3 linked regions of the Homo sapiens genome follow. The protein of the gene in region 2 interacts with the protein of the main gene of each other region in a pairwise test. Each region holds a gene or a part of one and is shown on either strand. Other genes may lie near its edges.

Region 1 (7,364 bases), on a different chromosome or scaffold from region 2:
TCTTTAATTTCACCCCTCCAGGAACTCTCGATAATACTTATTTTAATTTTTATTGTTTAGAGACAGGGTCTCACTGCCTTGCTCAGACTGGACTTAAACTCCTGGGTTCAAGTGATCCTCCCACATCAGCCTCCCAAGTAGCTGGGACTACAGGCGTGTGCCACCACACCCAGCCATTCTGGATGATACTTTGTAAACTTTTAAAACAAATACCTCTGGAGGTCTTCAGGTCCTAATACCTGCATAACCTGCTCATTCACATCTTCATTAATCAGCCTACAGAGTTTTCCAACAGTGCTTACTAGCACACACAATGAGGATGAACTATCTGCAAAAGAGAAATAAAAGGATATTTTAACAGAGAATTTCCAAAATTACATACATCAAACATTTTATGCTTCAGTTATCCTCAATTTTTCACTTAAACATTTTTTAATCTACTTTTTGTTAATTTATTAAAAATTCTTAAATGGGGGCCCAAAATGACAAATTAGGTCATCACCTAATTCTAAGAGTTCTTGGAGGTTTCTCACAGCATTGTTCATTTCTCCAAGCCTAGTATAAACTTCATTCATTCGGGGATAGACTCCATTTAAAGAAGGCACATCAAATAACTTTTGGAAGTGAGAAACAATAGCTTGCAAAGTTTGAAAGTGTGGCATATTGCTGTCCTGTCCAAAAAAGAGGTAAAAAAGAAAGAGTTCATTATCTTAAAATAATCCCAAATAAAAACTTTTAAAAGACAAATAGAACTCTAGTAGAACAAATATCAATATCCACAATTTATCAGTTTTTGAGATAAGAAACATTAGAAGGTGACCGTTCATGTAGGTATTACCTTTTCCTTATTTTCAACTTCTTCCAGCATAGTATCTACTATAAACAACAAATCTTCAACTTTGATACCTTCATTTTCATCCTGCTTCTTCAAATTAAGCCAAGGTACCAGTTCTGCAGATAGTGTTTTCAAGGACTTATACAAATCCTTTATAACAAAAGAAACTATATGGTATTATTGATTTAAATAATTTCTATAGTAACATAATAGAACATAATTAGTAAAATTATAAGTTTTATATATTATATGTTTTATAAAATTAATAAAACATAATTACACAGGTTAAAAAAATATATATGTAACCATCATTTTTTTTAAATAAAAATACTACTACCAATTTAGAACAAGTCAGTTAAAATTAGGTTTCTCCAGGTAAACACAGGCTTTACAGAAAACATTATATATTGATTATTCTGAATCTGAGTGCTCTAAGTAATTTTATGTTATTTATTATTGTTCCATAATATTTCATTATTTTGAATTGTTGATACACAAAGAATAAACTTGCCCTTGAATTTTGGTTTTGAATATGTTATATAACAGCTTTATTGAGATGTAATTCATATACCATAAAATTTACCCTAAGTATACAATTCAGTAGTTTTAATATTTTCACACATGTACAAACATCAGCACTATCCAATTTCAGAACATATTCATTACTCCAAAAAGAAATCTCAGACCCACTAAGAGTCCTTCCTTCCCCATTTTCCCTTCCCTGCAGCTCCTAGGGTTAATCTCTAAACTATTTTCTGTTTCTATGGATTTGCCTATTCTAGGCATTTTGCATAAAGGGAATTATACAATAAGTAGTCTTTTATGAATGACGTCTCTCACTTAGCATAATGTTTTTAAGATTTATCCATGTTATAACATGTATCTCCAGGCAAGTTTTTAATGTGAAAGGTTCCCTAAATGTATTCTACATTATAATACTCCACTTAGTTTTCTTGGCCTAGTTGTGGTGCCCTAATTGATTTTAAACTGTGCACAATGGGCAAGGCTACTGAAAGTTTAGAGCTCTAGACTGATCAATCGACAAATATTTAGAATTCCTAGTCCGAAAATCTGAAATGCTCCAAAATCTGAAACTCTGAGCAACAACAGGACACTCAAAAGAAATGCTCATTGGAGCATTCTGAATTTCGGATTTTTGGATCAGTGATGCTCAAATGGCATATATTCTGCAAATACTCCAAAATCTGAAAAAATTCTTAATCAAAATACTTCTAGGCCCAAGCACTGTGGATAAGGGATACTCAATCCATATGTGTATGGCACAGCGCTTGGTCCTTTAGAACAACGCTGTCCAAAAGAAATGTAATGTGAGCCACAGTAATTTTAAGTTGTCTAGGGCCATAGTATGGAAAGTGAAAAGAAACATGTGATATTAACTGTACTAGTATATTTTATTTAACCCAATATATCCAAAATATTATCATTTCAATATAAAATCAATTATTTTAATTTTTCCCATACAAAGTCTTCTAAATCCAGTGTATATTTTACACTTATAACACATCTGAATTAGGACTAGCCACCTTTCAAGTGATCAATAACCACATGCAGCTAGAGGCTACCATACTAGACAGCACAGCTCTAGAGAACAGAAAGAAGTACAAGAAGTTCCTCCTTTTTCTAACTTATTTTAGTACTTCACTTGACACTCTCCACTTAAGGCTCAGACTTCACATATTGGTATCTTTAACCTTTCAATTGGTAGGAAGGCAGTTACTATTTTAGTAATTCATAGCAATAAATTCCATGTCAAATGAATGTTTTACAATCAATGCCACTAGAATTTGAAAAAAAAAAAAGTCAGCAAGTAACAGCATAATGATACCTTTATTAACCAATGCTCCAGGAACAAGGCACATTTATAAAGTAATCTATGGTAAAAAGCATACCCAATCTAATACATTTTTGCTTCAGAATAAAAGAGTATTACAAAGCTAAGAAGAAAAGATGTTCTGGTCTCCTAAGCAGTGACAGGATGGTTGTAGCACAGTCCATCAAGTAAGCTCTGAAAAATATAAGAGGGTCTCCTAGGTTCTTTACATTGCCCAGTTGTGGAGATGTAGAAGTACTACCATGAGCCAGCCTACCGTGTACGTCTGGCCTCTGAAGCACTGGAGAATAGCAAAGCAAAAGTATTCAAGAGTGTACTGGGTTGGGGAAAGCTACAACATCTGTAGTTCACCTTTCTTGGAAAGGCAGGAGGGAAAAGACACAAGGCTGGAGGCAGCTGGCTCCATGTCTTTCCCAGCCTTCTTTTCTTCCAATTTTTAAAACTAGTAAAATACCCATAAAATTCACCATCTTAACAATTTTTAAATGTAAGTTCAGTGTTAATATGTTCATAATGTTGTGCAACCAACATCACCATCCATCTCCATAATTCTTTTCATCTTGTAACACTGAAACTTTATACCCATTAAACAATAACTTCCCATTTCCCTCCTCCCTCTAGCCATCACCACTCTACTTTGTCTCTATGATTTTCACTAAGTATCTCATACAAGTGGAATCATATAAGTGGAATCTTCTTGTGACTGACTTATTTCACTTAGCATAATGTCCTCATAATGTTCACCCATGTTGCAAGGGTCAGAATTTCTTTCCTTTTAATGGCTGAATAATATTGCAATATATGTATATACCACATTTTGCTTATCCATTCATCCCTCAAACCTATCTTACTCTTTAAAGCCAAATTTAACCTGAGGGAAAAAACTAATCTGGGAAGATGGTTGTCCCAAACTTAGAGGTTGCTACATATCAAATAACCTTTGATATGAGGCCTCAGAGAATCTCATGTAGTTTCTTAATTTGGACCCTGAAACTGTAGTATTAATATCTGAAGCACTGCTCAAAATCCATGAGTTACTCCAATGGCAGAAGTAACTAATTCTTAATAATTTCTTCTTGGGTGTCCTCAGAATATTCTAATTATAAAGCGAATTCCTTGCCTCCTCCTCCTCCTCAGAAAACCATACAATAGCAAGAACTCACCACCATGGCAAAGCCCTTCTTGGGGGCTACAATCAGAGTGTTCTCTTTCTCCTCCAGACTCTAGAGCACAAGTTATCTGCATCATTCACTCAGAACTTCAACCGGTAATCTATTTTTATGTCACTCATTTCCTTTAACGATATAAATGATTACATTTTGTTTCATATTTTTTAGTATATTTTGTCTAATTAGTCTGAATCTTGTGTTCATCCCATAATGGCTTAGCATGATAAACGATCAATAACTATCCATTAGTGTGATTCTTCCCTTTGTCTTCTTCCTCTTCTAGTCTTTTCTTCTAGGAAGGCTAGGGCTTTTTCTAGTCCATCCCTTCTGAGATGAAGAAAGGTGGAGTCAGCACTGTTTCCTCCTACTGGGAGAACCCTCTGACAGGCAGTGATTGAGGAAATACCATGATTTACACTATTACTAATTATTTTACACTCTTCTGAGATACAGACTGGAGGAACTCCGGTCTATAAAGTAAGTATATTAATCTAGCACTGTCACTCAATCAAAATGTTTATGTATTGTATAGCTCTGTCTGAGCCCTATATAAAAAGGGAAGTCGAAATTTAAAAAAAATTAACATCACCACCCCCAATTTTGTTGTCTTGGAATATAATATTCTGCTTCATTCCTTTTAACAAATATTAATTGAGCACTCATTCATCAGGAGGATCTTGGGGACATATCAGAACAAATAAAAACACTGTCTTCATGGAGCTTATACATTCTTAACAGATATCTTCTGCATCATTTGTACTTCATGTAATAAGACTTATGTTGCAAACACTGTTATTGAATCACATTTTCATTAACAGGCATATGCTATGTATTATATTAGTTACTAATAAATCTAAAGTGTAAAGGGCAAAGAAGTTAAATACTACTGATTTCAACTATTTACCTTTCAGCAAACTAGTTAACAAAAACTGAAAAAACCTGAAGCTATGCAATAAATACACAATAACTCTATAAATAAAATGTGGTCTTCCATGAAGAGATAGGATAGGGAAGGGTAGCGTTGGCTGCTAGCTTACTATCTGTTCTAGAGAATAAGCAGAAATGGAGATAAGCTCAGTTCTGAGAGACAGAAAATAAAGTGTGAAGAGAGAGAAAATATCCCCAATTATAATAAAATGAAGGATAAGACATTATATCTGAAGAGGGATAAGGGCCAGGAAAATCGCAGCATGGAGATATGAAAAGGAGGCAGATGAAGGTAGAACAGGGAAGGGCCTAGAAGTACAAAGTGGATCCACTATAGATTTTCAATAAGGAAACTAACCCCAAAATTTCTTGTTTGGTAGAATCTTAGAGGAGGTAAAGCTTACAGTAATGACAACATCAAATAGACAGTACCTAAAATAGATATGTAAGTAGGAAGATTTCGGTTTTAGATAATAAGCTTTTTTAGCTTTAGAGTTAACACACAAACAAAAAAATTAAACCCTATTTAATTTTTAGCCCTGAATTAAGTCCTATTAATAAAGCACATAGAGTCCAATAGATGTTCAAAGCATATAATCATAGTCAACCCCTTACCTTTAAGGATGTCAGTTGATCTGCCCACATTTCTATTACAGGAACAAGATGCTCAAATCCACAATCTTGAACAAGATCTTTATTAAAATTTTGGACTCCCCCTTTGGTCTGTTTATAAATTATTACTGGAGCTCTTGGATTGTGGATAATTGAATTGATGCTACACAGCACCTTTAAAAAAACATAGTGTATATAGTCAAAATATTTATCCTATGCCTACAAAGTTATATATTTTAAAGGAGTGCTTTATGTCTATATATATTATATACACATATTTCATTAAATATACAAAGAAAATTATCATAAGGAATTGGCTCATGCAATTATGAAGACTGACAAGTCCCAAGATCTGCAGTGAGTAAGCGAAGACCCAGAAAAGGTAATGGGTATTTGCAGTCCAAATGCAGGCAGACTGAGACCCCTGCAAGTGCTAATGTTTCAGTTTGAGTCTGAAGGCAAGAAAAAAACCAGTGTCCCATCTTGAAAGCAGTCAGGGAGGAGGAGCTCCCTCTTATTCAGCCTTTTGTTCTACTCAGGGCTTTGAATCATTGGATGAGGCCCACCCCATTAGGAAAGGCAGTCTGATTTACTAAAGTCTACTGATTCGGATGTCAATCTCATCCAGAAGCACCTTCCCAGACACATCCAGAATAATGTTTAACCAAATATCGGGCATCCTATGCCGCAGTAAAGTTGAAACAAAATTAACTATTACAAACACTACCTAGGTTCAAAAATTGTTAGTATTTTGCCATATTTGCTCACTATCTATATTTTTAGGTGAACCATTTGAAGAAACTCTTCACCCTCAAATAATAAAGCATGCATCTTTTAAAAGTAGGCATATTCTCCTACAAACTCACAAGAACATTATCAGACTATTTAAGGAAATTAACAGCAATCCCCAGGCTGAGTGTGGTGGCTCATGCCTGTAATCCCAGCACTTTGGGAGGTTGAGGCAGGAGGATCACTTGAGCCCAGGAATTCAAGGCTGCAGTGAGCTATGATAATGCACTTCAGCCTGGGCAACAGAGCAAGACCCTGTCTCCAAAAATAATATCATTGATGCCTGGATTGAATTTTAGGTATCTTAATATATTAAGATAGTATACTATTTGACTATAACCCTCTCCCCATAAGTGATGGGTTCTACCTTACATATCATCCGAGGAAAAAAAGGGAGACCTCAAAAAGCATGTTTAAAGAGAGAAGAATAAAGCCATTTCCTATTACCACCATCAAGTTCAGCCTATTTAATAAAAAGTTTCACAATATAAAGATAGCATTTTGCTCTTGAATCTTTGTCCCTGGTCATACTTCAAGATATAACTAATAGGCCTCCTGGTAATATGACTTAAGATGTTTATTACTTCAGATGTTTATTTAGAAGCTTTTTAAGTCCAAATTAGTATAATTCAATATTTCACTTCAAATTGATGTATGTATATTTGTTTTATATATTTATTTGACAGAGTCTCACTCTGCAGCCTAAGATGGAGTGCAGTGGTGTGAACGGAGCTCACTGCAGCGTTGAATTCCTGGGCTCAAGTGATCTTCCCATGTCAACCTCTCAAGTGCTAGGACTACAGGCACAAGCCACCATGCCCAGCTAATTAAATTTTTTTTTTTCTAGAGATGTGGTCTCACTATATTGCCCAGGCTGGTCTCAAACTCCTGCCCTCTAGCAATCCTCCTGCCTCGGTCACCCAAAGTGTTAAGATTACAGGCATGAGCCACCATACCCGGCTTGAATTCCCCTTTTAAAGGACAAAGCCTCTCAAATTGAGTCTCAGAAACAAAATGAAATCCAGTTATATACTGGTACAAGAAAGTCTAAAACAAAACAGTTTTCAGAAAGGTGCTTGGTTCCCATTTACAATAGCAATAAAAGTTATAAAATACCTAGGAAATAACAAGGTATTTCCTAACAAGAAATATGCAAGAGCTAAATTTAAAAATACACAAC
Region 2 (7,902 bases):
TTCTGTACCAAATCAATTATTTGTGTTAATGTAAAGATAGATGATTACATTTAGTTTTGTTAAATTTCATCTTGTAGATGTTGGTACAACAGTCCAGTCTGTTAAAACAATTTTAGATCTCCACTTCTATTGCAGTAGGTACTCGTCTAAACTTTACATTATCTAAAAATGTATCACTGGGGAGATCATAAAATTTATAGACAGCAGGCACAAAGAAGACTTTTAGACGCTATCCTTTTTATTTATTGTTATTATTATTTTAGAGACAGTGTTTCACTCTGTGTCCCAGGCTGGAGTCCAGTGGCACAATAATGTAATAGCTCACTGCAGCCTCGAACTCATGAGCTCGAGGGATCCTCCCACCTCAGCCTCCCAAAGTGTTGAGATTACAGGCATGTGCCACTACACCCAGCTAATCTTTATTTTATTTTATTTTATTTTATTTTATTTTATTTTATTTTATTTTATTTATTTTATTTTATTTTATTTTATTTTATTTTGTAGAGAGGTCTTGATGTGTTGCCCAGGCTGGTCTCAAACTCTTGGCCTCAAGTGATCCTCCCACCTCAACCTCCCAAAGTGCTGGGATAACAGATGTAAGCCACCACACCCAGCCCTCCTTTTTAGTTGAAAATGACCAAAACCTATGTACACTTAAGCCAACAGGAACTTTATCAGATGGAGACTGAGCTATCTCACTATCTCACTGACTCCAAGATAGGCATGGCATTGGCCTGAGAGAGGTAAGGCGGGAGACGTGCAATCCTCCCTCCCTCCTGAGCTGGGCCTCTTTATTCTCTGTCTCAATCCCCAACACCCTTTCTCACTCTCCCAACACTCCCTTCACCCACAGTCCACCCTCCCATCCCACTGGCCCTTACTGGCGTGTGTACATGACCACAGACCCACCAAGTATGGACCATGGTAAAAGCACTTGTGCCCGCTTCCAGCTAAAACTCTTTACACTGGATGTGCATTCAGGCCCCAGGCCTCTGCCAGACCACCAGTTTCACTTATTTATACTGACTTCCCTTCAATTTTACCCCCTGGGCCCTGAGAAACATCCCAGATATTCAGAGTTTACACCTTTCCTCTGGCCCCAGACCAAAGCCCAATTTCTGTTTCCACAAGGCAGTAGTTTGGGTTAGATGTCCACTGTGGTCCAGACAAAGGTGGCAAGAGGACAAGTTCAAGGAGAATAAACATGGCTTCCCAGAGCCATCCTCTGTGACTGGGTGCAATTCTCAAAGAAAGAGGTATATAATATTGACGACTACCTGATGAGTAAATGCCTCAATTTGTTTACTATAGAGATATCAATGGATGCCAACTCCAGGTCTAAGACATATGGATCAGGTCCACTCAAGTTCAAAGTAATGGAAGGCTTTGCAGTGGGAAAGTTGTCAGAATCAAAATTGGGTCACTTATGTCAGCCTTAACAAAATAGAGCCAGGAGGTCATGGAGGTAGGGGGAGGCTCTCAGGCATGATTTGCCTGATAAAAGGAACTATCACAGGAAATGTTATCAAACCATAGTTTGCTACATGAGTCACACAAAGACAGCTAGCGGCTTGTACAAGAACACTTGCCTGACACACTGTCTCCACTAAAGAACTGACAACAACTCCTGTCATAAACCCTTGTAACCAATGTTCTGTTTGTTTCAAAACAATCTATATGTACTCTTTTGCCTTTAAAACTTCCCCTTACCTTAGCCTCCCTGGATGTGCCTAAGATTTGTCATAGCATCTGTGTCCTGCAATTCCCAATTAAACTACATATTTTTAGAGAGCTTCTCTCTGTTATTTGGGTTGACAGGAGATAAAGAATAGAGTAAAATTTACTGGTTAAGTACTTTTTCTTTTTGAGATGGGGTCTGTCTCTGTCGCCCAGGCTGGAGTGCTGTGGGGCAATCTTGGCTCTTTGCAACCTCTGCCTCCTGAGCTCAAGCAATCCTCCCACCCCAGCCTCCCGAGTAGCTGGGACCACAGGCACACACCACCACGCCCGGCTAATTTTTTGTATTTTTGGTAGAGATGGGGTTTCGTCACGTGGCCCAGGCTGCTCTCAAACTCCTGAGCTCAAGTGATCCTCCTGCCTTGGCCTCTCAAAATATTGGGATTATAGGCGTGAGCCACTGAGGCTGGCCCGGTTAAGTACATTTGACTTTGGAGTCAAACTAGGGATTAAATCCTAATTCTACCACAAACTAGATATTTTAATCTCACAAGAGTTACTCAGTGGCTTTATGCCTCAGTTTTCTCACCTATAAGATGGCAAATATAATAGCTAGTCTTATTGGGTATTCGTAGATATTAAATGAAATTATATATCAGACTACCTAACTTATAGCAAGCATTTAATAAGTGGCAACTCTCATTATTATTATTTCATCACCATCAGTATTAGTATGAAGAAATGAAGCTGTAACAGTGTAATAAAATGCAGTGGGTTTGGCATGATACATATGTTTCAACCATAACCTTATTTGTGTGTATATACATAGAGAATATATAAAATACAGGGCATACATAGGATATCATATGCATATGATATCGTATATCTAGCTGCCCTGAGATTTTGTTTTCACCTGTGTCTGTAGCAATGGCTTGCTGTCACTTCCATTGGTGTACTGGACTGTTGGTACTGAATTAAATGAGACAGGGAGTATTTAGCTGCTCTCGCCTTCCCTCTGATGGATTGTTTCTCAGTGATTGATGTTTATCCTTGTGCCTCTTTCCCCCCTCCAAAAAAATCAAATACCATCAAAACCAAGAGTCCATCAGACCCCAGAGACCTGAGGATAAACCGTAGTAAGGCAGCACGTGACTGTCCTTCCCCTCCTGCCTAAGACGCCACGTTAAGGAAACAGTCAAGGACAATTTCACTCACCCTTGGAAGGAATCACGGTGGTGAAAACTTCTATGTTCTCGTCACTGCAGCTGTAAATCTGATGCATCATTTCAGCCTCCTCTTCCCAAAGTGCCTGGGAACTGGAGGCCTCTGTCTCTGGACCCCTAGTCTCGAGGCATCCTAATCCAGTCCGGCTCAGGGATCATTGTACATGTATCACATATACGATATCATATATACAGATGATATATATGATATCATATAAACACATGATATATATGATATATATACACATGATATATATGATATATACACATGATATATATGATATTATATACACATGATATATATGATATATGGAACAGTATATAACCTGTGACCTCTATATGTAGCATAATAGGATTTATAAGATAATAAATATATAGGATAAATGTATTAGGATATATAGGGTAATACAAATATATATAGGGTAATACAAATATATACATATGCTATATATACATATATCATATATACAAATATATATGATATATATACATACACAAATATATATGATATATATATATACACATACATATATACATATGATATACATACATATATAATAAATATGATATACGGGACAGTATATAATCTGTAACCTGTATATGTAGCATAATAGGGTTTATATAATATATTAGGATATATAGGGTAATACAAATATAACTTTCTATAATTTGCTCCTTGAACATGGGGCACTGCCTGTTGCCATGTCTCTGTGAGCACCTAAGGGTTATACGCGGAGGTACCAAACACAGGACCCTTGAGAAATGTCAGCCTTGTCATGTAATGGCATGAGGGGAAAACACTGGAGAAACAGTCCTTTTGTTTAAAATAGAAACTTCTAAGAGAGCCAAGTTAGCACATGACAAATTACTGAATATCCCGTTCTCCTGGAGGGGAGAAAAAAAAAAAAGCCCCTTCATTTCTGAAATGAGAAAGGGAATTGCTGGTACCAAAATTCACGTTTCCTTTTTGGTGGAAATTCTCCAGCCAAGCTTGGCGCTAACAGAGTAGGCGATTTCACTTCGTCGTCACCTCACAAAAGGCTTCCAAATTCACTGCGGCAGACACCGCAAAATAAAAATGTTAAATACATCCTAGCTGGGAGGGGATTGAAGCCTCCAGGCTCAATCAAAGGTTTGCAATAATAGGATTCATTTAAAAAAAAAAAAAAAAAAAAGGACAGATGGGTTTAGAAAATGTTGCAGTGAAGACTGGAACGAGATGAGCTCATAGCACCAGCCTGTCTTTTGTGGACCCGCACAATGATCCCTGAGCCAGACTGGATTAGGATGCCTCGCGACTAGGGGTCCAGAGACAGAGGCCTCCAGTTCCCAGGCACTTCGGGAAGAGGAGGCTGAAATGATGCATCAGATTTACAGCTGCAGTGACGAGAACATAGAAGTTTTCACCACCGTGATTCCTTCCAAGGGTGAGTGAAATTGCCCTTGACTGTTTCCTTAACGTGGCATCTTAGGCAGGAGGGGAAGGACAGTCACGTGCTGCCTTACTACGGTTTATCCTCAGGTCTCTGGGGTCTGATGGACTCTCGGTTTTGATGGTATTTGATTTTTTGGAGGGGGGAAAGAGGCACAAGGATAAACATCAATCACTGAGAAACAATCCATCAAGGGGAAGGCGAGAGCAGCTAAATACTCCCTGTCTCATTTAATTCAGTACCAACAGTCCAGTACACCAATGGAAGTGACAGCAAGCCATTGCTATGCACACAGGTGAAAACAAAATCCCAGGGTAGCTAGATAGAGACTTTCATTTTTTCCAGTGAGCAAGTGGGTTCTGAAATGAGAACAGCTGGCTTAAAAGTATGATTTCTAACTGTGCCATGCAAAGTGCGGAGAAATACTCCCGGTGGCTGCTTGAAGTCCAGTGAAGCCGTCAGAGAGCGCCCTGACCCTGGGCTGGCTTCTCCACAGAACCCAGGGCCACCTTGCAAACTTAACCCGGAACTAATGCTGCCAGAGAATGCGACACGAGAGTCTTGACTTTATAAGCTCTTGTGGTCCTCAGTGAACGGTGTTAAGGGCTTTGTGTGAGGGTTCTGATGACTCCAAGTGTCTGGTTCCTGGTCAGTCCCCTCAGCCTCTCCTAAGCATGGCCCCCTCTCCTGCCGCCTCTGTTCTCTGCCTGCGCTCCTGTCTTGCCCCCTCCCATCCACCTCCATGACTCAGGCTTAGCCCCTGGTCTCATTGTCAGCCTTGAATGAAGTAGGCTGGGTGTTTGCTGGTGTTGTGAGCCCACATTCAAACAATTCCTTTCTTCCCCTGTGTCAGCCGCTGACAGGGCCATTGCACAGTGGGGCAGGGAGAGATTCCGTTTGGCCACAAAGAGACAGCCTGCAGGACATAAATTAAGCTTTAGACATTTACTGCCAGATCCAGAGAGAGGGAAAAGAGCTGGGAGTCTGCTGCCCACGTGCAGGAGTTGGAATTCCCTCTGGAAACTCTGAAAGTCCAAGTTGACCCTCGGAATCAGCAGTTTCGCTTTTGGGTGGAACTCCTCTTACCCCTGGATGTTCACGGTGGCATTGATTCTAAGAAGGCACAACTGAAAATAACCTGAGTGTCCATGAAGAGGGGAATGGTTAAAATGTGGTGCTGTCATGCTGTGGAATACTATACAATGTCAACAGGAATAAACTAGATGTATGCCTGTGAACATAGGTAGATCTAAGCATAATGCTGAGTGCCAAATAAGCAGGCTGAAAAATTATATATGTAAGATAGCATTTCTGTAAATTTGAAAATATAAACCAATACTATATATTGTTTATGGATATGTATCTAGAGAAAAATACAAAAACATAGACCAGAAAGATACAGATAAAATTAGTGATCTCAGTAGTCTTGGGAAGGTAGGGAAGGAGAATTAGGGAAGGGTAGAAAGAGAACCAAAACATTGCCTCTGATTTTGTATTTCTTGTATATGAGAAGAAAACAAAGTAGAAGGAAATATGAAAATGTTACATGTGTTTATTTTCTATCATTTACTTCCATTTACAAAATTTTTAAAGGAAGAAAAAGTCAAAACGAAGTGGTTAAGAGACTGCTGCCACTTCTGCACTGTGTGACCTTGGGCAAGCTACTTAACCTCTCTGGGCCTGAGTTTCCACTGCTGTAAATGGGAGAAACAACTTATCTTCCAGGATCATATGGGGAATAAATGAGTAAATATATAAAGCATCTAGAACAGTAGCTGGCATGTAGTAAGCACCATTAAATACATCACTTAAAAAGTGATTTCCAATTTTATTTTGTATTTAGAATAATCAACATGATCAGTCAAAGATAAATATTTAATCTTATCTTTTTTCCCTTCCCATTTTCATTCATGGCCACTTCCTTGTGGTACAAGAGTAGCTATCTTGTGAAGTTGCTGTAAAACCTTTTCCCAACCAAGTAACATGTTTAATGGTTAATTTCTTTAAGCTTTTTTATAATTGTGGCAAAATATGCATAACAAAATGTACCATTTTAAAAACTATTTTTAAGTGTACAGGTCAGTGGCATTAAGTCTATTCACATTGTTGTGCAACCATCACCCCCATCCATCCTAGCACTTCTTCATTATCCCAAACTAAAACTCTGAATCCGTTGAACACTAACTCATTCCCCCACTCTTCCAGCCACCAGTAACCACCATTCTACTTTTTGTCCTACAAATTTGGTTTTTTGTCCTTTTGTTTGTTTGTTTTTCTGTCTCTATGAATTTGACTACTCTAGGAACCCCATATTAAGAGGAATTGTAGACTATGTGACATTTTGTGTCCGGCTTATTTCACTTAGTACCATGTTTTCAAGGTTCATCCATGTGTGGCATGTATCAGAATTCCATTCCTTTTCAAGGCTGAGTAATATTCCATCACATACAGACACCATATTTTGTTTATTCATTCATCTGTTGGTGGACATTTGGGTTGTTCCCAAACTTCAGCTCTTGTGAGTAATGCAGCTATGAACTTTGTACTCAAGCCAAGTAACATCTTCAATCGCAACGACCCTGTCTCTTTTTCCCGTCCCCTCCTCTATGCCCCTGCCTCGCCACAGATTCAAACCTTCTCAGTGTTGTTACTGTAGCTATGTCAGCCTCGCTGATGTTGTCTAAAACCATTTCTTTCTCTCTGTCTTTGCAGTATCCAGTCCAGCCAGAAGAAGAGCCAAAAGCTCTCAGCACCTCTTGACCAAGAATGTAAGGAAACTTTAGTTTTGATGTTCTTTGGTTGACTTTCATTTAAAAAGCAATGCCAGGCTTCTTCTTCACTCTCGCTCCCCAGCTCTCAGTGGCCAGGAGGGTTTCAGTGTTCCATGTGGTGCGTGCTGCACTCTCCGTTCTCCACTTAACCAAAATAATTGACAAATGTCAACCAGACACCAAGTGACCCTGAACTGGACCACTTATTCTGCCATTTTCTCCAGGCACAGAGAGTAAGACTTGTTTTATGCACACTTTTTTTTTCTTGTTTAAACAGAGTTCACGATGTGGACATAGCATTCCTGATCTAGGTGTTTTCCTATTGTTGGCATTCGTAATGTTCCATTTTTTTACTATTATTAATAGCACAGCAATGAATGTATTTATATAAAATACTATTTTTTTTTTGAGATGGAGTCTCTCTCTGTCGCCAGGCTGGAGTGCAATGGCACAATCTCTGCTCACTGCAACCTCCGCCTCCAGGGTTCAAGGGATTCCCCTGCCTCAGCCTCCCAAGTAGCTGGGACTACAGGCGCACGCCAGCACGCCTGGCTAATTTTTTGTATTTTAGTAGAGACGGGGTTTCACCATGTTGGCCAGGATGGTCTCGATCTCCTGACCTCATGATCCATCTGCCTTGGCCTTCCAAAGTGCTGGGATTACAGGCATGAGCCACTGCACCTGGCCAAAATACTATTCTTTTGGATTAATTCCTCAGAGCATAGGCCTCAAAGTAGAAAAAAAAGGTAAAAGGATAAGAACAATTTCATCCATCCATCTACTCCTTCATCAAATATT
Region 3 (7,364 bases), on a different chromosome or scaffold from region 2:
GGAGCAGTTGGAGCCATACCAGAACATGAGCATGAAAAGAAACTTAGAGAACTCATGGCTAAAGGTACTAGTTTCACAGAGGGGAAAATAAGCCCAGAGAGATGCAATGGCCCACCCAATAATCCACAGCTGGTTGGCATCAGAGCTGACACAAGAGGCTGGGTCTCTCCACCAACCCTCCAGGCTCCTTCTGCTGGCCTGAACCATGCTGCCTTGCACTCCCGTAACAAGGTTTCCTCCAGAGAGAGCACCCTGCAAGTCAGAGTACTCTGACGGTAGTTTCTCCAGGAAAGCAGCCTGGTGTTGGGTTCCCTTCAGAGAGGTCCCAAACAGAACGAGAACCCTCCACCCTCAACTGGAAGCAGCCCACCAGGCAGGTTACCTGTGGCAAAGGCCTTTCCACAGCTGGGGAAGTCACATCTGTATGGACGGTCACCTGTATGAGCTCGTTCATGCACCTGTGAGGACAAGCAATCACATAATTCAGAGGAGCAAGGGTATGACCAGGGCTCTTTGGTTTTCTTTAGGACCCTGATTCTCTTCCCTCCTGTACCATTCATGTGTGTCAAGCGCTCTGTGCTGGCATTCCTGTGTACCCTCATTTCTTCCCTCCAGCAACGTGAGGGCAGGGACCAATTCCAATCAAAGCAGAAAGGTAGAATTACAGCCTGGGAGGGAAGACTGCAGAGCTGACGGCTGTCTGCCAGCAACCTTACCTTTAAGTGATGAGCGGTGGTGTAGAGACGCCCACAGCCCTTGTAGCCACAGCGGAATGCTCTGTCTCCAACTTGCTGCCCTTTTCCATTACGGGGAATCTGGCTGTCATGAAGAACCTGGGGGAAAAGTCTTGAGATCCCTATATGTATTCTCCCCAGTGAAGAAGGTGGGACACAGGGCCCTGCTGGCAGCTTAAGACCCAACAGGCAGGGTTAAACCTGTCAGGGGCCTCTGGGGCAGAAGAACATAACTAGACGGACAAGGAACAGATGCTGGGGCATGCTACAGAAGAAACAGGGTGGGCATGGGGAGTCACCACCCATCTCTGATGGGATAAAGGGAGACCTACAGGTCATAGTGGCTGTGACGGCTATTGAAGAAAGGCTATCACATAGACAGCTAGGTAAGGTGAAAAGGGAGGTTGTCTGAATGGCCATGCTTGAACTGGACCAAGTGCCAGAAACCCTCCTTCTAAGCACACACACCTAGGAGCCTGCAACTCTCAAGACCTCCATCTTCTGATGGGAGGGGTCCCCTTCCTCCTGGCACGAAACTAGTGCTTAAAAGTACATAAACAAGGGGGCTTGCTGTGGAGATGAGCTCACCTAGGTTCATCTGATAGGACTTGGGGCCCAGAGTGAGGTGGCCACGACCAGAAGCACCCAGGGGAGTGCTGCAGTTTCCACCAGAAATGTCAGCTCTAATGACAGCACCCAGCTGACAAGTCCTCCCCTTTTGTCTCCTCTTCTGGGATATTGCTAAAGCCACCCATCTCACACCAGCCTCTGGATGCAGGGAGCCCTTATTGCTCTTCTGCTTTCCTGGGCAGGGTCCTGGTGGGACTATCCCTTAGTCTTTCTTTCTAGAATGCTTCAGAATCACACTCTGGTCTTTCCAGGAGCTCCTGAAACTGAACTCTACAAGTTACAGTGAGCAGGGGACAGAGGGGTGAGGCCAAATTCATGGCAAGGTCTGTCTAGTTAGGCTCCAGCTCAGAGGCTCAAGCAGCTGAGAGCTTCACGGACACTTAAACAGCTTCTGGGTAGAGGGTAGGGTCAGAGGTGGCCTGACCTGCTTGGCGGGCTAACCCACACAGGCACTTGGATTTCATTCCATGTCTCACTAGCTCCTGGGGTAATCACGGGAATCAAGGGACATCAGGGATGGAAGTGACCTCTGAGATCATCTGGTCCCATCTCATCATATTAGGAATAAGCTGAGGTCGAGGAGAGGAGGGACTCACCCAAGTTTGGACTAGGTAGAGGTAGAGCAAGCATAGATCTCAGGGCTCATGATTTAAATAAAACCCACTTCTCTTTACATCAACATCGAGTCTCAAATTTGGTCTCTAAGATATACCTCAGGGAACCTGGGTGGGAGTGAATGTAGCCTACTGTAAAGTTTTGTGACTTTTTTTTTTTTTTTTTTTTTTAGATAGGATCTCCCTCTGTTGCCCAGGCTGGAGTGCAGTGGGACAATCTCAGCTCATTGCAGTCACCGCCTCCTGATCCTCCCACCTCCGCTTCCCAGTAGCTGGGACCACAGGTGCGCACCACCATGCCCAGCTAATTTGTTTTTGTATTTTTGTGTAGAGATGAGGTTTCGCCATGTTGCCCAGACTGGTCTCAAACTCCTGGACTCAAGCGATCCACCTGCCTCAGCCTCCCAAAGTGCTGGGATTACAGGCGTGAGCCTCTGCTCCCGGCCTGTGCTTCATTTTGAAAAGACATGAGGACTTCCTTTTTTCCTCCATCATTCAGTCACACTGGTTTCATTATAAATAAAAAACCTCCCCCATCTTCGGGTAAAACTGCTGGAAGGAAGGAACGTGCAGGAAGCCCTGGCACATCCAGCCTGAGGCTCTGTAGTCATTCCAGGAAGGGAACACCCTGGTTTGGAAAGCTCAGAGATGTCTGTACCCTTTTCCCCACATGCAGGACCATGGTTTCGGCAGAAAGAACTTGGACTGACTGGTATTTGCAGAGCCAGGACCCTTTTCCTTTCCAGCTGAGCTACTGTGTGGGCCTCATAATCCAGGAATCCCAGCTGTTCTGTTGCACATGCCCTTGTCATAGCCCACTGAGGTTAATTTTCCAAATGACTGAGTCACAGAGAAGAAATAAATACAATTACCTCAGTGGACTAGAAAGCTAATACAAGTCACTGGCAGGGCTTTCCCAGCTAGTGCAGAGGATTACTACAGCAGCCAAAGTGAAGCTGGGCCTAACTCCTCAGCATAAGGATGCCACTGTTTCTTATGGCAGCTTTCCCTCTGCAAAGACAGCGTAAACAAAAGTGAGCGTAAACAGCTGTCAGCGGCCAGGCCAGGCTGTGTTGCATGCCCTAGACAATGATGTGTGACAGGTGAGTTGGGGGAGCTGGGGTGGAGGGGCAAAGGGAATATCCCACATGGTGCCCAAGCACAGGGCTGCCCTTGTCCTCTTGAGAGGTGAAGTTCTGGCAGGGCCAAGAGGCAGTGCGCAGGCCAGGCCCGGTTGTCTAGAGTGACAGACCGTGTCACGCTGTGCGTGCTCACCTTGCTGGCATACTGCTCCAGGGCCACCACTGCGTCTGCACTGAAGCCCTCATCATCCTCTGCTGCCAGGTCCTCCAAGCCCACCTCTGTCTGTACGGCCAGGATGGTGCTCTCCGATGGCACAGCCACAGGGTGGTGAATGTAGGCAGTGGAGCCATCTTCCAGTTGGACGGCTTCCAGGGTGCTGGGGTCATAGCCTTCTGCAGGGAACACGCGGTTAGCCCTGATGCCACACAAGGGGAAGAGATACAGCTGGGACCCTAGCTTTAAGTTAATGAGAGATACATATACCAAGGAGGGTTTCAACATCCAATTTCTCATGGCCCTTCACTTTGTGATTCACTCTTGCTGGCCCTCCTTCTGCAGCTGTCTCACCTAAGGATGAGGTCTCCTATGGTACACTAAATGGGAACTCACAAGCTCCTTGAGGACCTGACAGGGGCCCATCATCATTTTGGCTTAGATGACCACAATAGCCTCCTGACCAGTCGCTCCTCACCCCCTCTAGTTCCCTCCAGGCAGCACAACATCCAGAGGGATCTTTGCGGGACACAAATGTGACCATGTCACTTAACTGCCTCAACAGTTTAAATGCTTCCCACTGGTCTCAGGATAAAGACCAAAATCCTCACCCTGACACTCAAACCCAGAGTGCACCAGCCCTGTCTTTCTCTCTCCAGTTTCCTCCTGCTCATTCTGCCTTCACTCCCAGGGCTCTAGCTCCTAGCAGTTCCTGGAATGTGCTGTTCTTTCTTCCCCCCAGCTCTAGGCCTGCACATGCTATTCCTTCTGCCTGAAGTACTGAACCCTCCCTGCCATCCCTCTTCCCCCAGCTAAGTCTACCTCATTCTTTACCTCTCAGCTCAAGCATCACTACCTCAGAGAAGCCCTCCCTGAGCCTGATCTCTGTTTGTAATGATCAGTTCATCACTGATGGCTTGTTTCACTTCTGTTTCCCCCTCTAGACTCTAGGAGAGCGGGGACTGTGTCTGACTTTGTTCTGTCTTGTATACTGCACACCTAACACAACGCCAGGCATGCAACAGTCACTCAAGAAACCACCTGCGGAAGGAATAAATTGTTATTCTTCAGCACCTTAGGAGCTTCATTCTAAAATATTAGTTTTTTTTCCTGGTCTTGGATGATATCCTCGGGTCCTATTTAAAGCCCTAAGACTTTGTGGCTGTGCTGGAGCCAAGGCCACCATCAAAGTCCACGTCACTGATCTCCAAGGCTCACCTCCCAGTTGCAGACATAGCTGCTCCTGTGGTCTGCACCAGGGAAGGTGGGCAAGGCTGCTAATCCAGGTGAGCATGTGTGTACCATGGAGATGACAGCTCCCATGTCTACACCCCAGTTGTGTGCCATCCCATCCTCCAGTCCTGCCACCCCATCCTCCAGTCCTGCCTCCCATCCTTCCCCGAGTTGTGATGATGGTGACCCTACCTCTGGGTGTGCGGTGTATGTAAGCCATGCTGCCATCTTCCAGCTGCACAGGCTGACCATCCTCAAAGGAGAGAGCTTCTGTAACGAGAGCAATGCCTGCCTTTCCCTGGAGCTCAGTGCCATGGAGGGGTCCCTTGGTGGGGGCTGTCAGGCTTCCCTCGACAAGGCATGGTGTGTTGGGGTGCCCTCACCTTTCTGTACCGTCACCTGGTGAATGTATGCGGTGGTCCCATCCTCGAGCTGGATCACCTGCCCTTCAAGAAGCTTCTCTCCTGTTAAGAGTGGAAATAGAGAGAAATGGGCCAGGACCAGAAGAGGGCTAAGAAACGCCTGCCTGTTTTTAGCTGAGGCTTATTTGAGTCTCTAGGCACGAGCCTGCAGGTCTAAGCATGGGTAACATCTTCCTTGTTCCCTTGCTCTGTCTCCCTGGGCCTGGGCCTTGAGACACTAAGGGTGAAGACACTTGCCTTGCCGAACCCATCACCTCCCAACAGATTCCCTTCCAGTTACTAACAGGAGGAATAACTTCACTTATTATTCTACCCATGCCCAGCCAAGTGGAAACTTCCAACCTAATAGTAAGTTGCTGAGACTTGAACTAATGGCCCTTAAACCTGGATGAGCCCCAGTGGGTCAAAATTCAGATATAGCTCAAACTAACAAAATCAAAACATATCCCCTCATCCCTCACTATGACAGTGTGCTAAGACCAGGAGCCCCTGTGAAGGCAGGATATATAGCTTAATGGTTAAAAACAATAGACTCTGGAACCAGGCCAGGCCTCCAGAGTTTGAATTCCAGCTCTACCTCTTAACAGCTGTGTGACCTTGGACAGCTTATTTAACTAACCTCTCTGTGCCTCAGTTTCCTTTTCTTAAAATGGGGATTGAAAACTGTGTCTCTTATAGGGTTGCTGTTAGGGTTAAATGAGTTAACGAATATAAAAAACTGGGAAGAGTGCCAGGTATATATGGTCAGCCCTCAATAAATCCTAGCTTTTATTATAAGCCCAATATGCATTTTAGAAGAAATGGAAAGTAAAGCAATAGAGAACTATGTGAGCACAACTATTATGCTATTATGTGTCCATGAAGGTCTTATTCCACTGCCACTGTTGAGTAATGTTCCTTCATTGACCTCTCATTTTTCATTTCAATTTTCTAGTAAAAAATTAGATCACCTAAGGCAACACAACAAGCAGCATAAAAATTAACAAGCCTCCAGATTTCCTAAGATATTACTCTTCCTTTACCTTACTGGAAAGCACTTCTAATAAGGCTCTTGAAATTAGAACTAGACGACCCTTCCTTGTGTCCAGTGAGTCTGACAGAGGGGGAAGGAAGAAGAGAAATGAGAAAGGAAAGAAAGGGAGATTGAAGAGTTAATGATGGTCAGATTCGGTGGCTCATGCCTATAATCCCAACACTTTGGGAGGCCAAGGCGGGTGGATCGCTTGAGCTCAGGAGTTTGAGACCAGCCTGAGCTATGTGACAAAACCCTGTCTCTACAAAAAACACAAAAATTAACTGGATGTAGTAGTGCATGCCTGTGGTCCCAGTTACTCGGGAGGCTGAGGTGGGAGGATTGCTTGAGCCCAGGAGGCAGAAGTTGCAGTAAGCCGTGATTATGCCACTGCAGTCCAGCCTGGGTGACAGAGTAAGACCCTGTCTGAAAAAAATAAAAAATAAATAAATAAAAAGGCTGGGCACGGTGGCTTACATCTGTAATCCCAGCACTTTGGGAGGCCAAGGCGAGCAGATCACCTGAGGTCAGGAGTTTGAGACCAGCCTAACCAACATGGTGAAACCCTGTCTCTACTAAAAATACAAAAAAATTAGCTGGGTGTGGAGGCAGGTACCTGTCGTCCCAGCTACTCGGAAGGCTGAGGCAGGAGAATCACTTGAACCCGGGAGGCGGAGGTTGCAGTGAGCTGAGATTGTACCACTGCACTCTAGCCTGGGTGACAGAGTGAGGTCCTGTCTCAAAAAGAAAAAACAAAAAAGTAAGGCTGGGTGTGGTGGCTCACACTTATAATCCCAGCACTTTGGGAGGCTGAGGCAGGCGGATAACCTGAGGTCGGGAGTTCGAGACCAGTCTAGCCAACATCATGAAACCGTGTCTCTACTAAAAATACAAAAAAATTAACCAGGCGTGATGGCACATGCCTATAGTCCCAGCTACTCGGGAGGCTGAGGCAGGAGAATCGCTTGAACCCGGGAGGCGAAGGTTGCAGTGAGCCGAGATCACGCCACTGCACTCCAGCCTGGGCTACAGGGTGAGACTCCGTCTCAAAAAAAAAAAGGAAGAAAAAATAAAAAAAAAGTTAATGACAAGTGATTTGTCCTTTCCTTAGAAGATTGAGGTTTAGGAAACTGAGCGCTCAGGTGGGAAAGACAGTTACTTCCAGCCCAAGTCTCTGCTGACGTCTCCCCTTTAGAGGAATCCCCAAACTTGCTCCCAAACTGAGTCTTCTTGGGGTCAGTAACTAACAGTCCTACAACTAACCAAAGGCAGGTAAGGTGGAGATAAAGGTAAGAAATAGGAAAGGCAGCTGAGATGGGGGGAAGATGAACCCATTTTCTTCCCTCCCACCCACAGAGCAGTAGGCTACCCTCATTTTAACAATTTATCTGTCCTGGCAAGGGCATCAGTACTTGGGGTTCTG

What was found. Proteins that work in one complex are often made in the same cells at the same time.
Region 1: the proteins of VXN (region 2) and CEP70 interact in binary tests that used the Homo sapiens proteins (3 or more experiments, as listed by UniProt).
Region 3: the proteins of VXN (region 2) and ZNF76 interact in binary tests that used the Homo sapiens proteins (3 or more experiments, as listed by UniProt).

The regions. Positions count from the first base shown.
Region 1 is NC_000003.12:138,499,897-138,507,260, forward strand, and holds part of CEP70 (centrosomal protein of 70 kDa), read right to left. Parts: intron 5,570-7,364; coding exon 5,399-5,569; intron 3,982-5,398; coding exon of another isoform or gene 3,940-3,981; exon of another isoform or gene 1,354-3,939; intron 986-1,353; coding exon 839-985; intron 672-838; coding exon 503-671; intron 329-502; coding exon 214-328; coding exon of another isoform or gene 201-213; exon of another isoform or gene 1-200.
Region 2 is NC_000008.11:66,489,392-66,497,293, forward strand, and holds the start of VXN (vexin), read left to right. Parts: upstream 1-4,174; 5' UTR 4,175-4,257; coding exon 4,258-4,327; intron 4,328-7,045; coding exon 7,046-7,101; intron 7,102-7,902. UniProt on the Homo sapiens protein: Required for neurogenesis in the neural plate and retina. Strongly cooperates with neural bHLH factors to promote neurogenesis.
Region 3 is NC_000006.12:35,283,735-35,291,098, reverse strand, and holds part of ZNF76 (zinc finger protein 76), read right to left. Parts: intron 4,974-7,364; exon of another isoform or gene 4,972-4,973; coding exon 4,891-4,971; intron 4,778-4,890; coding exon 4,700-4,777; intron 4,669-4,699; exon of another isoform or gene 4,125-4,668; coding exon of another isoform or gene 4,109-4,124; intron 3,477-4,108; coding exon of another isoform or gene 3,454-3,476; coding exon 3,254-3,453; intron 847-3,253; coding exon of another isoform or gene 834-846; coding exon 717-833; intron 459-716; coding exon 383-458; intron 1-382. UniProt on the Homo sapiens protein: May be involved in transcriptional regulation.